Homo sapiens: one gene and its partner. The gene in region 1 interacts genetically with each later gene. Each region holds a gene or a part of one and is shown on either strand. Other genes may lie near its edges. The genes, in order: YWHAQ and NRIP1.

The links.
Region 2: of YWHAQ (region 1) and NRIP1, changing one suppresses a phenotype caused by changing the other (phenotypic suppression), as found in Homo sapiens cells (one study listed by BioGRID).

Annotation. Positions count from the first base shown.
Region 1 is NC_000002.12:9,585,993-9,593,276, reverse strand, and holds part of YWHAQ (14-3-3 protein theta), read left to right. Parts: intron 1-1,761; coding exon 1,762-1,885; intron 1,886-4,948; coding exon 4,949-5,112; intron 5,113-5,767; coding exon 5,768-5,863; intron 5,864-7,284. UniProt on the Homo sapiens protein: Adapter protein implicated in the regulation of a large spectrum of both general and specialized signaling pathways. Binds to a large number of partners, usually by recognition of a phosphoserine or phosphothreonine motif.
Region 2 is NC_000021.9:15,054,752-15,062,035, forward strand, and holds part of NRIP1 (nuclear receptor-interacting protein 1), read right to left. Parts: intron 1-7,284. UniProt on the Homo sapiens protein: Modulates transcriptional activation by steroid receptors such as NR3C1, NR3C2 and ESR1. Also modulates transcriptional repression by nuclear hormone receptors.

The DNA of each region.
Region 1 (7,284 bases):
CAGAGTGAGACTTTGTCTCAAAAAAAAAAAAAAAAAAAAAGACATGGATGCAGTGATTGCATTTTGTTAGACCACTTTTAGTCAGATAAACAAGAAGAAAGTTCTTGGTTAGAATTGTATATTTTTAAATTTATAAACAGCCTTCCTTTTCTTTAGCAGTTATGTGAATTTGACTCAACCTTACTTGTTAATTCTCCAGACTTGCCAACTTGGTATCATGGATGGTATTTTATATAATATTAACTGAGCGTATCTGTGGTTATTTTTCCAAAATGTAAAAAGGATCTTCTCTCTTCCCTGCTTTAAAACGTTCACTAGTTTCACTTTTCCTAGAGCAGTGCTTTTCAAACTGTGTACCTAGGCTGATACTAGCTAACATTTACTGAGTACTTAACATGTGACACTATTCCAGGCTTTGACATCTGTTACTGGTTTTATTCTCAAAACAAACCAATGAAGTAGGTATTAGTATCTTAACATTTTTATGAGAATTTCATTTTGCTTTGTAATATTTAATACAAAAAAGCTTTTTTTGTTTTTGTTTTTGTTTTTTGAGATGGAGTCCACACTGTCACCCGGGCTGCAGTGCAGTAGCATGATCTCGGCTCACTGCAACCTCCACCTCCCAGGTTCAAGCAATTCTCCTGCCTCAGCCTCCTGAGTAGCTGGGATTACAGGTGCCCACCATCACGCTTGGCTAATTTTTTGTATTTTTAGTAGAGACGGGGTTTCATTATGTTGGCCAGGCTGGTCTCGAACTCCTGACCTTGTTATCTGCCCGCCTTGGCATCCTAAAGTGCTGGGATTACAGCCGTGAGCCACCGCGCCCGGCCCTAAAAAGGTTTTTAAATGGATGACCTAGCATCAAGAAAAATGGAATCTAAGAAGATTTCTATCATATTTGTCTTTTGTGACTTTTTATACTCCAAGGCATAGCATACCATGTACTAGAAGTGAAAATTTCTTTGTATGAAATTAGGGACAAAAGACATACTCAAGAACTTTTTTAAAAAAATAATTAGATTTCGTAGACCTAAAATTATTCTTTTAAATTGCTGTGCAAGTTTCTAAACCTCTTACTCTCGATTCCTGTATTTACCTCATTTTAGATGGATACTTGAATGCAAAGGGCACTGAGTAGCACTATTCTCCCTCGTACTTGATGTTTTAAACATTTTGTTTCCCGTCCCTAAAATGAGTGCACATCCCTGTTTTCTGTTTGGTGCATTTCTACTTTTCCTTCTTCATGCCTCAAATACTCTTTCCCTGGGAAGCCTGTCTTAACTGGAGGCCATCTCCAGCAGAGCTACTCCATCTGTGTGCTTCCTTAGCACCGTATTCACATCTTTCTTAGTTCTTGGTATGTAGTTGGTGTACTTACAGACGGTGAGCTTCTTGAGGGCAGGGGCCTGATTTTAAGTCTTCTCTATATCCGTTATAGCACCTAGCAGGTATGAGTAAATGTTGAATGAATGGATGAGTGAACAGATAGGCTGTTTCAAATTACAATGTTTGGTGTAATCTAGAATCTAGCCTTACCATTAGAAACTATAGGCTACATCATTTAAAGCCTCCCAGGGCAACTAGTGGCAACAACCTAACCCCTGCTCTAAGAACATGCTTCAAGTCCAGGCTGGTATGGTATAGTATTACTGTAGTAGTAAATGATTGAAATGCCCGCTAGGCAGAAGTTTTATCATTTAATGATAATGCACAGTAGGCAGAAGTTTAGTGCCTAATGTTCTGTCTTATTTATTTCAGGAATTGTTGGATAAATATTTAATAGCCAATGCAACTAATCCAGAGAGTAAGGTCTTCTATCTGAAAATGAAGGGTGATTACTTCCGGTACCTTGCTGAAGTTGCGTGTGGTGATGATCGAAAACGTAAGTTTATTTGTTATATGGGCAAAAGTAGAATATAAAAAAAAGAAATGGGGATAAATGGGACACTATGACAGTATACGTAGTCTTCAGGCTCTTTGTGACTTAATAATTGAATGTATGTCAAGAAAATTAGTATTACCTTATGTTCTCAAAAATGAAAATTGGATTATAAATTTACATCACATGCTCTTTAAAAAAATTAAGCTCATCTGTGAACTCTGTAATCTCATATGGTATTATTTAAAACAGGATTAATCTTTTATGCTTTTTAGAATTTTGGTTCACCATATTTTTAGCTCCAGAGTTTTTTGTGTAAACTTTATGAGTGATTCTGCATTTCACATGGCCTTTCTATTATGCCTTAAAACTTCAGATCACTGGAAATTACATACAGAACGTGGAAACAGGTTGTTGTGCTTTTGCTGTTTGTCATATTCATTATCGTCTATTTTAAGGGGTCATAACATTGACTGCTAATTACATATAATCAGATTTCTGAGGAGAGGTGAAATGAGTGTGTTATTGCTGGTGTATAACTTGCTCCAACTTCACAGTAAGTTTGAATGACTCATGGTTAGGTTTTACTTGAGAAGGTTGAATATACAGGAACTGTTGATTAATCAAGTAGTGGTCATAAAAATAGATTTTAGTATTAAATACCTTTTTTTTTTAACCTAGACTATCATAGAAAACATGGATATGAGAAAAAGTGACCGAATTGCCTAACTTGATAATAAAAAAGTGAAGTGAATTTATTTGCAGTGAATGTCTCTTGGGATACTGGCAGCTGAATATAAGATAGATCTCATTAAATTTAGTGTATGTGCTTGCTACCAGATTTATCAAGTTCTAGGTATTAGAAGTGTCAGTCCTTATTTTTTCCAGTAAGTTTGTTGTTTTGTTCTTAATTTTGCCCTGTCTACAAAGATATACCCCTACAAATAGTTACTATGATCTGAAAATGAGAGTTTTGCCATCCTAAATATCAGTGTAACTGAATATATAAAGAGAACTTGTACCTGAGAAACTGTTATACCTTGCTATAACAAAATCTATATACTAAACTTACTTATTCTGTTACTGATGTGTAATTTCTGTTGCCATGAAGGTAAGCAGAATTGGACATGATACGGGCACGGAACTGTACATTTAAGTATCAGAAAGCCAAAGAGAAGTATTTGGGAGATTGAGACATAGCTGTAGCTTTAACCTGATTTAACCCTTAGGAGCTCATTGGCACTTTCAGGTCTCACACGTAGTCCTGTGTACATTCTGATAGGCTGCGATTCATAGATAGGCTGTCTTTATAGCCTAATTGCTGAGACACTGGTGCTTCCTAATTTGCCAAGCTGCAAGAACTTCTTATTGCATGTGGGCTGTACCAGTCAGGGATTAGATCAATAAATGTGCCATTTCAGAGGAAAGAAAATGAACATAATTCAGGTCATAAAGGGATAGCTTAATTCTCTTACGTCAGTATCTCTAAAGCTGTAATAGGCCAGTGGCCTCATACAGAAAACTACCCTTTTCAAAACATGGGTATAATCAGATTAGTGTTGGTAATACTGAACATTTTTTGAAGGGGGAGTAACATTTTAATTAGGCTAGTAATCAAACTCTGGTCAGAGCAGATTTTGTCCTATTTATTGAAACTTTTATATTGCCTTTCAAATAATACCACTTGATACTAAGAATCAGTATTTCTGCAAATCAGAAAAATAGAGATTTTGGTGTTGATGATCTTTGTAAAGTTTACATTATTTAGGGAAAGGGTATTCCAGTCAAATTATTATTATTATTATTAATTTTGAATGGAGTTTTGCTCTTGTTGCCCAGGTTGAAGTGCAATGGCGCGATCTTGGCTCACCGTAAGCTCCGCCTCCCGGGTTCAAGTGAGGCTTGTGCCTAGCCTCCCAAGTAGCTGGGATTACAGGCATGCATCACCACTCCCATCTAATTTTTGTATTATTAGTAGAGACGGGGTTTCTCCATGTTGGTAAGGCTGGTCTTGTACCTCCAACCTCAGGTGATCTGCCTGCCTCAGCCTCCCAAAGTGTTAGGATTACAGGCGTGAGCCACTGTAAATTATTCCAGTCAAATTATTTTTAATTGCTGCATTTCCAAGTAATAGAATTAAAAGACATAAAATAAGAAAATAGTTTTAGCCTAGGTATGGAAAAAAGTCTGATTTACTATAATATCTCATGTTTTTTTTCCATTAAGCTGTTTATATGTAAGCAACATTCTAAACTGGTTTTTTGTTTTGTTTGTTTGTTTGAGACAAACTGTCACTGAGGTTGGGAGTGCAGCAGCATGATCTTGGCTCACTGCAGCTTCAACCTCCTGGGCTCAAGGGGTCCTCCCACCTCAGCCTCCCAAGTAGCTAGAGCTACAGGCACGCACTACCATGCCTAGCTATTTTTTATTATTATTATTTTTTGTAGAGACAGGGATAAGATCTCCCTGTGTTGCCCAGGCTGGTCTTGAACTCTTCAGGTTCAAGTGATCCCCCTGCCTCACCTTCCCAAAGTGTTGGGATTAGAGGCATGAGCCACTGCACCTGGCCATAAACAAGTTCTTAAATACCCAGTACACAATATTGTTTTTGTTTGTTTGTTTTTGACACAGAGTATCGTTCTGTTGCCCAAGCTGGAGTGCAGTGGTGTGATGTCGGCTCACTGCAACCTCAGCCTCCCAGGTTCAAGCGATTCTCATGCCTCAGCCTCCTGAGTAGCTGGGATTACAGATGCCCGCCATCACGCCTGGCTAATTTTTGTATTTTTAGTAGAGATGGGGTTTCGCCATGTTGGCTAGACTGGTCTTGAACTCCTGATCTCAAGTGATCCACCCACCTCGGCCTCCCAAAGTGCTGGGATTATAGGCGTGAGCCACCGCGCCTGGCCACGATAATGTTTTTTGTTAGCTACCATGATTTTAAAAGACCCATACAGAGAAAAAATCTTGGTTCTACCAAGAGCTAGTAGCATATGTTCAAGTTGTTAATGTACTGTGTACTGGATGGTTATTTTTAATATTGCACTTCTTATTTTTCGCTCTTCACAGAAACGATAGATAATTCCCAAGGAGCTTACCAAGAGGCATTTGATATAAGCAAGAAAGAGATGCAACCCACACACCCAATCCGCCTGGGGCTTGCTCTTAACTTTTCTGTATTTTACTATGAGATTCTTAATAACCCAGAGCTTGCCTGCACGCTGGCTAAAACGGTAAGATGTGTGTCCAGGAAATACGTACTTTAGCTACAGTTATTTGAGATACCAGGTATGTTAATTTATAGGTATTTTACTTGGATACCCAGGGATGATTTCTACTATATTTATTTTGAAATCTCCTCTTTTTCTTCCCATCATGATTACCTACTCCTACCCCTGACACCTTACTCTACCCTATGATTATAAGCAGTGATGTGCCTACAGAGCATACTGAGCAGAGTAATCAAAGAAGGATAAATGATGTTAAGAAGGAAACATAAAAGATTAGAAAGTCATGCCTGCCAGGTTTGGTTACTAGAATAGCTGTGCATCAGCCACATTCCTCAAAGTGGCTCAAAACGAGAGAATAAAGAGGACCCTGTAGAGATAAGTACTACTTAACTGGAAAGAAGTCTGTTAAGCATTGCTGCTGTTCCGTTGTCCTGTGAAAGAACCAAGACATGCTTGTTTACTAAGTGTATAGTTTTATAAAATTCCAGTCATACTCATAAGTTCTTAAACTGGGAGTGTGAGAGAATGGTTCTGTTGAGTTTGTTGATGGTAGAACATAAGGTGGGTGTTCACTTATTTTGTAAAAATGGTTTGTAATTGTAGAATAACCAGTTTTCGTCAATGCACATATTTTACCATGGATATTAATATTTATCAGGCTTTTGATGAGGCCATTGCTGAACTTGATACACTGAATGAAGACTCATACAAAGACAGCACCCTCATCATGCAGTTGCTTAGAGACAACCTAACAGTGAGTTGTTTACTCTTTTAATTTTATTTTCTTTTCAGAAACAAAAGTATTTATATTTTATTTTGGACTTCGTGTCTTTTAGGGAAGATACATACGAGCTGAAAGTATGAGATACGTGTTAGTATTTTATGGGACGAACATTATTTTGTAGGCAGGTTTTCAAGTTGAATAGGCATTTTATCAGACCTTCCTGAGAAGGTTCTAACATGATAGGAACTCAATATTAATATTACTATTTCATTGGGATGAAGATGTTGATAAATTATGTTAATAAAGAGCTTATCAAGTTTCAATATTTTGGGGCAAATCAGCTATAGCCAGTTAGGGACTATCTAAATATCTACGCTTTCTTAAAATCACAGGAAGTACCTTGTTCTAATAAAAGTTTACTTTGTGAATTGTGCATGATGTTCTACAAGCATTTAGGGAGTAAACCTATACCTAAACTTACTCCTTCTCTGCTTCTAGGCAAAAGCTTCTGTTTTGTTTGTCTTTTTCTCCCTGCTTCTTAGATAGGCAATTGATAAAGGAAGTAATCAAGAAAAAGTACAGCTTAAGCTTTACTTTAACATTCTTTTGTAGGTTCAAGTAAATTTGATAGGTAAAATCTTAGACTTCACAGAAGGAAAAAGAAGGGAACAAATCTTTTAATATAGATCTCGTCCTCCCAGCCCCCTAGTTTGGTGCTTTATCATTTACTAGATAGGATTTTTTAAATATTAGCACCATGTCTATTCAATTTTGCTGAATAGGGTAATTATGAATCCACTGAAAGGGGAACGAAGACCCTGCATTTCTAGCCATGAGAAGTGCCTGTGGTTGTGAGGGGACAATGGAAGATGATCAGCAAATAGTTCTACAGAGGAAGAGCAAATTAGGCAGTTATACCTCTTCCCAGATGTATACCTTGGAGCTAACTATCTTTTAATCGGTTTTGTTTTGTTATCTCTATTATGGAGACAGGTCTTTGGGGGATTTTGTTTTGTTTGTTTTTATTTAGTATCTTCATAATAATCTAAGGATTATGTAAGATTCTGGCTTTTCTGAAATTAACACTAATGTCTTGCTGTTGGTCTAATAAAGTGCAATTATAGTCAATAAATACTGACTTCTCTTCTTCACTTCATCTTCCTATCCTAAAATCAGAGAGATCCTGGAAGATCCACTTAGTTTTAACATTCTGTCTAATTCAAGAACCCTGTCTATACATGCACACATTGCTTCCCTGTAGCTTCCATCACCCACTTCTATTTAATTCTTGGAGAAACACAAAGTAAGTCTGCTTTTCCTATAGTTTAGCCCTTCACACACTTGAAAATTGTTAACCATGATTGTGGCTTTTTCCTCCCTGTGAAAATGTTTTGCTTTATTAGTCTGTAATAATAATGCAGTAGTGCTTTCAAGAAGAGCATTGGGCTGCT
Region 2 (7,284 bases), on another chromosome or scaffold:
AGACATCCTTCTGTGTGCCAGACACTTACAGGACCAACAGTACACTGATGAATAAGCTCCTATTCATGGAGTTCTACCAAGGAAAACAGCTATAACACAAGTTTAACTTTTACAATCAGGGCGTACACAAAACTGTGAAAGAAAATCTGATCTTGTTAGAGGCTTGGGGACAGAAGTAAGCCTACAAACTCCCTTGCCCACTGTCCCATGAGGGAGAATATTCCTTTCCAATTTGTTTCACCAACATCAGGAACGTGGCCAGTGTGTGGTCCATGAAAAGGTCTACACATAGGTTTCTTCTCTCTTGCTCTCTTTTCTAGGGGTGTAGACCAACGTGCACTTGGTTCATGGCACATTATCACCACTGGTCCACACAGTGCCCCCTCATCTTATTTGTTACCTTTCTCAAGAGAATAGAGGAATGGGGTCCATAAACTTTGAGATATGTTTCCAGTTGAACCAACAGACCCAACCACCTACATTAATGGTGTTGGAATACTACTCATCAGTAAAAAGTAGAGCTGGCCTGTGAGTGTTCTGGTCAACTAAAGGTATCTGGCTCTCTTTGTCTGCAAATAAATAGCAAGTCTCCCTACTTCTTTTTAAATAAAATTCCAAATGTACGTAACATGTAAAACAATGCCACTGCATGAACATGTACATAACTGTACTATTCTTTTTTTAAATTCTCAGCCTGGAAATTACATTTCAAGTACTAGAATATTCAACAAATCCTAAGACTTTTATGAAGACCATGAGAAGAAAATAAGGTACTAGAACAAAAGTGATGCAGCCAGCCAATTCTCGTTTCATGTCTCAAGACCCAGTTCTTATTATTATAGATCCCTTTGTGGGGTTAGCTTGGATTTTACTGCGGGATCCATCACCAAAGGTTATTAACTATTCCTTAACACCTGGTACACAAACCCCTCTTTCTGAGACTGCTTTGACAAAAATAAACAAAAAAGTGTGAAATAAATCAAGATTTGACTGACCATCCTAGGTCTACCCAACTGCTAGCTGAATGACTTTCAAAACGTCTTTAAATTCTTAAGGACTCAATTTCTTCCTCCGTAAAATGCAGATAGTAACTGTTTTGGGCATTTTAACTTAACAGCAATAACAAAAACTACAGGAAGATAAGTAATTATTGACCCCATTGTATCACATGGATCCCCTGGCAATTAAAAAAAAAGATGAATGAGATATTAAGAAATAAAAAGGAAAACAGAGTAAAGACAAAACAGAAATAAAGAAGGAAACCCAAAAGGAAAGAAAATGGCACATAAGCACTAAATGGTAGCATTTTATCATTATTTTATTTATAGTCTACACTAACTGTGTGCTCTTCCATACAAAAGATGCATCTAAAAACTAACTTGTTTGATAAATGGGGGGAGGACAAGGTGCCTCTAAGATAGGTGTGCTTAAATCCAGAGCAGCCGTAGCTTTTATCAAATTCTCTTCCAACCTGAAAAATCTAACGATTCTATGAAATAACTTCAATTTGTGAAAGCCCAAGCAAAAGAAATTCAAAGTTAAAAAAAAAAAAAAAAGAAAATGTGACTTTGACTCAGGTCAGTCAAGTATTACCAGGATAGATAAAAGTAGATTTTTAGCAATACAGTTAACAATGGGTCTTGCCACAATAATAGCAAACATCCAGATATTGGAAAGGAATCAGATGGTAAATTTAAAAAAGACTGTTTTCAATCCTTATATTTGGCTTCACATAGATTCAGTGTATTTTAATTCATTTTTTTTTAAAAAGCATGGATCAGTTAAGGAAATAATATAAGTTCATTCTGATCTTTAGGAAGACATTCTTCCCCCCATATTGTTCACTTTGACAATTTCTCTTTTTTCTTATTTGGCCAAAATATAACGTATTCTCTAAACAAAACACAGATGTTTCCTTTGCAGCTTTTATACAAATCTCTTGCTTTTCCAACATGATTTGGCAACTCAAAATCCAAAGCACCCTAGAAAATATTATGTTTACACGTCTTATTATTCATCTTTGTGTCTCCAATATAGTTTCAATTTGACTATACCTTTCAGTGTATAGGGAACCACTCAGCTTGAATCTTTTAGGTTCAAAAATTCCATAAATTTTAAATGAGGCAAGTAAAAGGAGGTGGAGAAGCTCATAACTCCATTTCTTATGGCTTTAACAATAAAAGAACGTACCTGGTATGTACTTAAAAATGTACTATGTGCCACAAAGCTCCCCCACTCAACAATCTCCCTCCTGACACAGTCTACCCTCAAAATAAAGTCAACTACTCCTCATCTCTCTGCTTCCACTTCCTTCCAATTCACAAATACATTGTTAATTTCCTCTTTGCATTTCAGAGAGCAGTTTATCAGCACAGGATAGTCTTTAACAAAATTGTTGTGAGTGAAGATAGGGTAATTAAAAAAAAAATCATGTTAAGAACTGTTAATAGTCAAGAGTTGTAACTTTTCAACCAGGAAGAGCTATGGTTCTGAATTTGCTACAACTGCTCCTTGAAGTGGACAAACATAACTAGCCTTGGGAACACTCAGTTTAAGACCATGACAAGCTATTTCAATGAATTATATAAAGAAACATAGTTGCTTTCACTGCCTCAAATAACACCGCAGTAATTCTGTGATACACTTCAGAAGAGTTAGCACTGGAGGGAAAAGAGCCTGTGCGGCAGCCCTTGGTGACTACATTTCCCTCCAGCGCAATGCAGGTAGCAGGACATCAGCGCTTTGAGAACTAGCATAAGCTGCTGCAGAATCATCGACTGGCAACAATGTGCCTTCCCAGAGAGCCTGGTCTTGGAGAATCCAGGCTATGAGGCTTGCAAATGCTGCATGAGTTTTATGGCTACCAGGTTGGGAGCAAGGTTTTTTAACGGCTTCCTGAATGTCAGATGGCAACTGGTTTTTTCTTCAAACAATGGCATATTCTTTAAGAAAATCAAATTATCAATGAAATTTGCCATGTGACCACAGGCAAGTTAACTATTCTTGCATTTTTCAGACTAGGTTTCCTTATCTCTAAACTAGAGAAAATGATACCTACATGTCACAGGGGAACTGGAAGGATTAAAAGACAAAATGTGTGTAAAGCTTCCAGCACAATGTCTGGCACAAAACGGTTGCCCCAAAAAGTTCAATACTCTTCCTTTCCCTGCTCCCCCTCCCAACAAAACAGGAAAAGGCAACAGCCAAGTAACTAAACAACTTCTTAATATTCCAAGTTTCTACCCAATCATCTCTTCTTCTTTTAAAACCACAGGCTTGAAATCTTTACTGTTTACTGTCAACAACGGCATATACTGCTGTACAGTCAGAATTTTAGAATTTAGAAATCAAATATAACCCCCTTATTCAACAGATGCTGCCGGGGGAGATAAAAGGGCTTTCCTTTTATCTGTATCATCTTGATTTAGTAGCAGAACCTAAACTCGAAAAATAAACGTGGAATAACAGGAATACTATTTTTTAACATGTTTTTCAAAAATCAAACCTGAGCCTACATAACCCATTGTGCAAACAGTCCCTTTAGGAGAAAAACTGCAACTGTGATTAATTTCTCTCAAGAATATTTATTTCCCATTTGGAGAGTTTCACATGTTTCCAAACATATTTTCTTGATGTCCTCCATGTCATTGTGTATTCTCTCCTTCCCTTAATTTGTTTCTTTTCCAGTGTATAAATCTATTGCTCTATTATAGATTATTATAATATAAACTCATAAATTCAGGAATTTAAAAAAAATCTTTAAAAGCATGCTTCTCAGAAATCATTACACTCTGTTAAACACTTGCTATCTCTCAACTTCTAGATAGATTCCTCAAGAGAGAAGTCCTTTTTTCATTCTGAACTTCTAATTCTCAAATTTTGATTGTGTCCTGTTAGTTACCAAACACACCATTATACTACTACTCTCATTTCAATATTGTACATAAACGATTCCCCATCTTACTAATGAAATGCTTTTTTAAAGCAGTAACATATTTAACATGTGCACATGTTATGAAGAGTATAGGCAAACTCAACTATTAAAAACATGTAACTATAAGGAAAGCCATCTTAGACACTATATGTGACTACAGCTAAGCTTTTCTCTTAAGTATCTAAAGCAAATCACCAGACTTTTACATAGTACCCTCACATAGCTAGATAAGAAAGTAAAAGTAAAATAATGAAAGCAGACTCTAAACAGCAGAAGCTCCAAACTCCTTAGTTTCTCTGTTGTGCTCAATCCTTTAGCAAATTACAGGCCTGAAAACAAGGAGTAGCTCTATCACTTAACAAGTGACTAAGGAATGACTTTGTTAATTAGAAGTCCAAGGGTGAGAGGCTCCTTTCCACCAAAGCTCTGAATAAACATCAACATCAGGTCAACCAGAGTTGTCTTGGTCCCAGGAGTAGCTTAAGCGGATGACTCAAATTCCCAGCAGAATTCTAGTTTAATATTTATTGGAACTCCGAGCTTAGTCACACAGTGACTTGGAATTTAAGACACATGGGGTCTCTTCTTTCCATCCTTAAAGATATTTTTGCTAAGTGACACAAAGTTAAAGAGGCAAGATGGGTTTTAATTTAGAGTTTTTATTCCCTGAGGTGTAAGAAATTAAAATTTTATTTTCTGGGGAGAGTGAACCATACTAGCTCTGAATTTCAAACACAACTATTAACCCTGTCAGATAATTCTATTATCAAGTTTTACAAAACTGTTTACTATTATTATTTTTTTTTGCTACCCCAGCCCTATGTATTGAAAGTGGAAAGAAGGAAGGGAGGGAAGGAGGGAAGGAGAGAGGGAGAATGGATGAATGGATGTATGTCACAATCACCTTTCTAGCCAAAACTGCAACATATGCTGGAGTTCTTGAAATTATTTCAACCAAAAAAAGAATCACAGGACTCATAATTTGTTTAGCAGGTAATTATTTGCCCCATTATCTTCAAGAACAATCTATCTTAAAACTGTGTATAGCTTTTTAAGAAATCTTAATACTAAGAGGATCCTTTTTTTCATAACCCCAAAGAGTGTTTTCTTCCTCTATTTTTGAATTGCCAGCCTTCTCAATTCTTTAAATCTGATTCACATTATACTACTTTTAGAGTTCTAGGCTAAATGTTTATCCATAGCATGATTCAAGGTATTAATTTCAACAAAATACTAATATAATGATAAAATGTATCACATTTATTTTCAACTCTTTCCTATTCTTCTGATTTAAGAACTTAAAGAAAAATATTTTATGTTTCGGGTGCATTTTGATAAGCTAAAATACCACAACTTTTGTAATTCTTCATTTGTAATATTTGCAAGATAGTGTAGGGATCAATTTGAATTTCAAGGTTCATGATATAGAGTATGTACCATAACAGTGAGAAAAGTTAGTATAAATTCCTACTCATCTCAGTTTCTATATTTATTGCAACAAATTAAAACTGCATTTCATAACTCGTAGTAAAACAAAAGGAAAGTTCTGTTTTAAATAAACTCCAACCTTCAGAATCCTATACATTCAGTATCCATCAACCTGAACACTAAATTTCAAGAAAAAACAACAGATGGGCATCCATATAATAGTTTGCAAAGAAACCCTGATAAGACTTCAGGAGTTTCTGTGGTCTCTATTTTCCCCCTACCATGAATCATAGGTAATGTGCTTAAATAAAGCATTATTTCTGCAGTTATTTACATGTTTATCTTTATCAGAGATCCTATAAAAGAATTATCCAGTTCACCACCCAAACTTTAGCACTCAGAACACGGTTTTCCCTGTTGATGAAGACCCTTGTAAAATTCCAGATCTTAAAAGATTAAAGAAAATGTGATCTAATATTAATTCATTTTCCTCCAAAGTATAACTCCTGATTCCATGCTGGTACCCAATTTTGATCCTCTACTTTAAAGATATCTCAGAGACATTCAAAACAAAGTGTGAACATGCACAAAAGGGGAACTTGTCGTTTCTCTCCCTCAAACAACCACTATTTATATAATATTGCTGGCCTCCTAAAAGAGAATAGAATCCATTACCATCAGCAATTCATGTCTCTGCTTCAGCATCAGATGCAAACAGGATACAGAAACTAGATCTCTCTCCTCCATTTACTTTTTGTTCATTCCAACCTCTCGACATAATCTTCAGTTCCATTCCAATGGCCTGTTTCACCATCTGACACTCCTGGTTTTTACCTTCTCAAGTCTTAGTGGCCATAGTGGTGTTACATTTCTCTAATTGTTGTGTTATCTAAATACTACAGGATGAGCCTGCTCATTCCCCCTCCCCCAAAAGTCCCTGAAAAAACTACAACTTAAGGAAATGCAACTTGAACCTTTTTAGTTCACAGATTCAAACTCATATCCTGCAAGACCCTAGCATATCTTGTTGAAAATTTTCTTTGACTTTTCAACAGTAGTCAAGATTATTTTAATGAAAATATTTCTCCAGTTGGAAGACATGGGTATACAGGACTTTGCTAGAACGGCAAATGCTTTTTCCCAGTCTTCATCCGTGTAACAGTAAATCGTTATTAAACAAACACACAGAACAAAACCCACTCTGATTGTGTATCAATCACCTGAAGGGGCAGAAGGGAAAAGTACAAGAGTGAAGAAACTTCTCCCCACCCACAGCCAAGAAGGAACGCTGCAACTAAGGCAGTTTTTCATGGAAGAAAATATCCAAAGATCTAGACAGTGTTTATTTTAGAAAAGGGGAAGAGAGCAAGGGAGGGAGGGAAATGGTAGGGAAGGGACTACCATTTCCTCTTACTAACCTACATTAAAAACTAATTGTATCAAGCAATCTCAAATGCGAAAAGCAAAACTGACCCTAGCACAATTTAAAGTGAATAATGTTTTCCTTGACAAAAATTCGGTATTTTAAACTCATTCTGAGCAAAATTATCTTTTAACCTGATACACCAAACTATTACTGCTTTTCCCAAACAACAGTTAGAACATGAGCTTTTGAGTTTCTTACATTCTTTACGTTTTAAAATTAAAAGCCAAATTCCTTTAACCTCATATATCCTAAGCCACTCTGATTTAAAATTACTTCTATGTCATTGTCTTCTAGCATTGGTCTGCAATAGAATCTGTGCAATTAACAATAATCTTCTTCCCTCTGATCTTTCTAGAGTCAAGGATGGCATATCTCCTTATCTTATTTGTTCCATTAGATTGGCATATTTTGCCTCATCTGTCACCTTCTATCAAACTCTGCTTTCAGATATGCGTTAATTCATTTTTAGTTGTCCTCAATGTTCTAAAATAGTGAT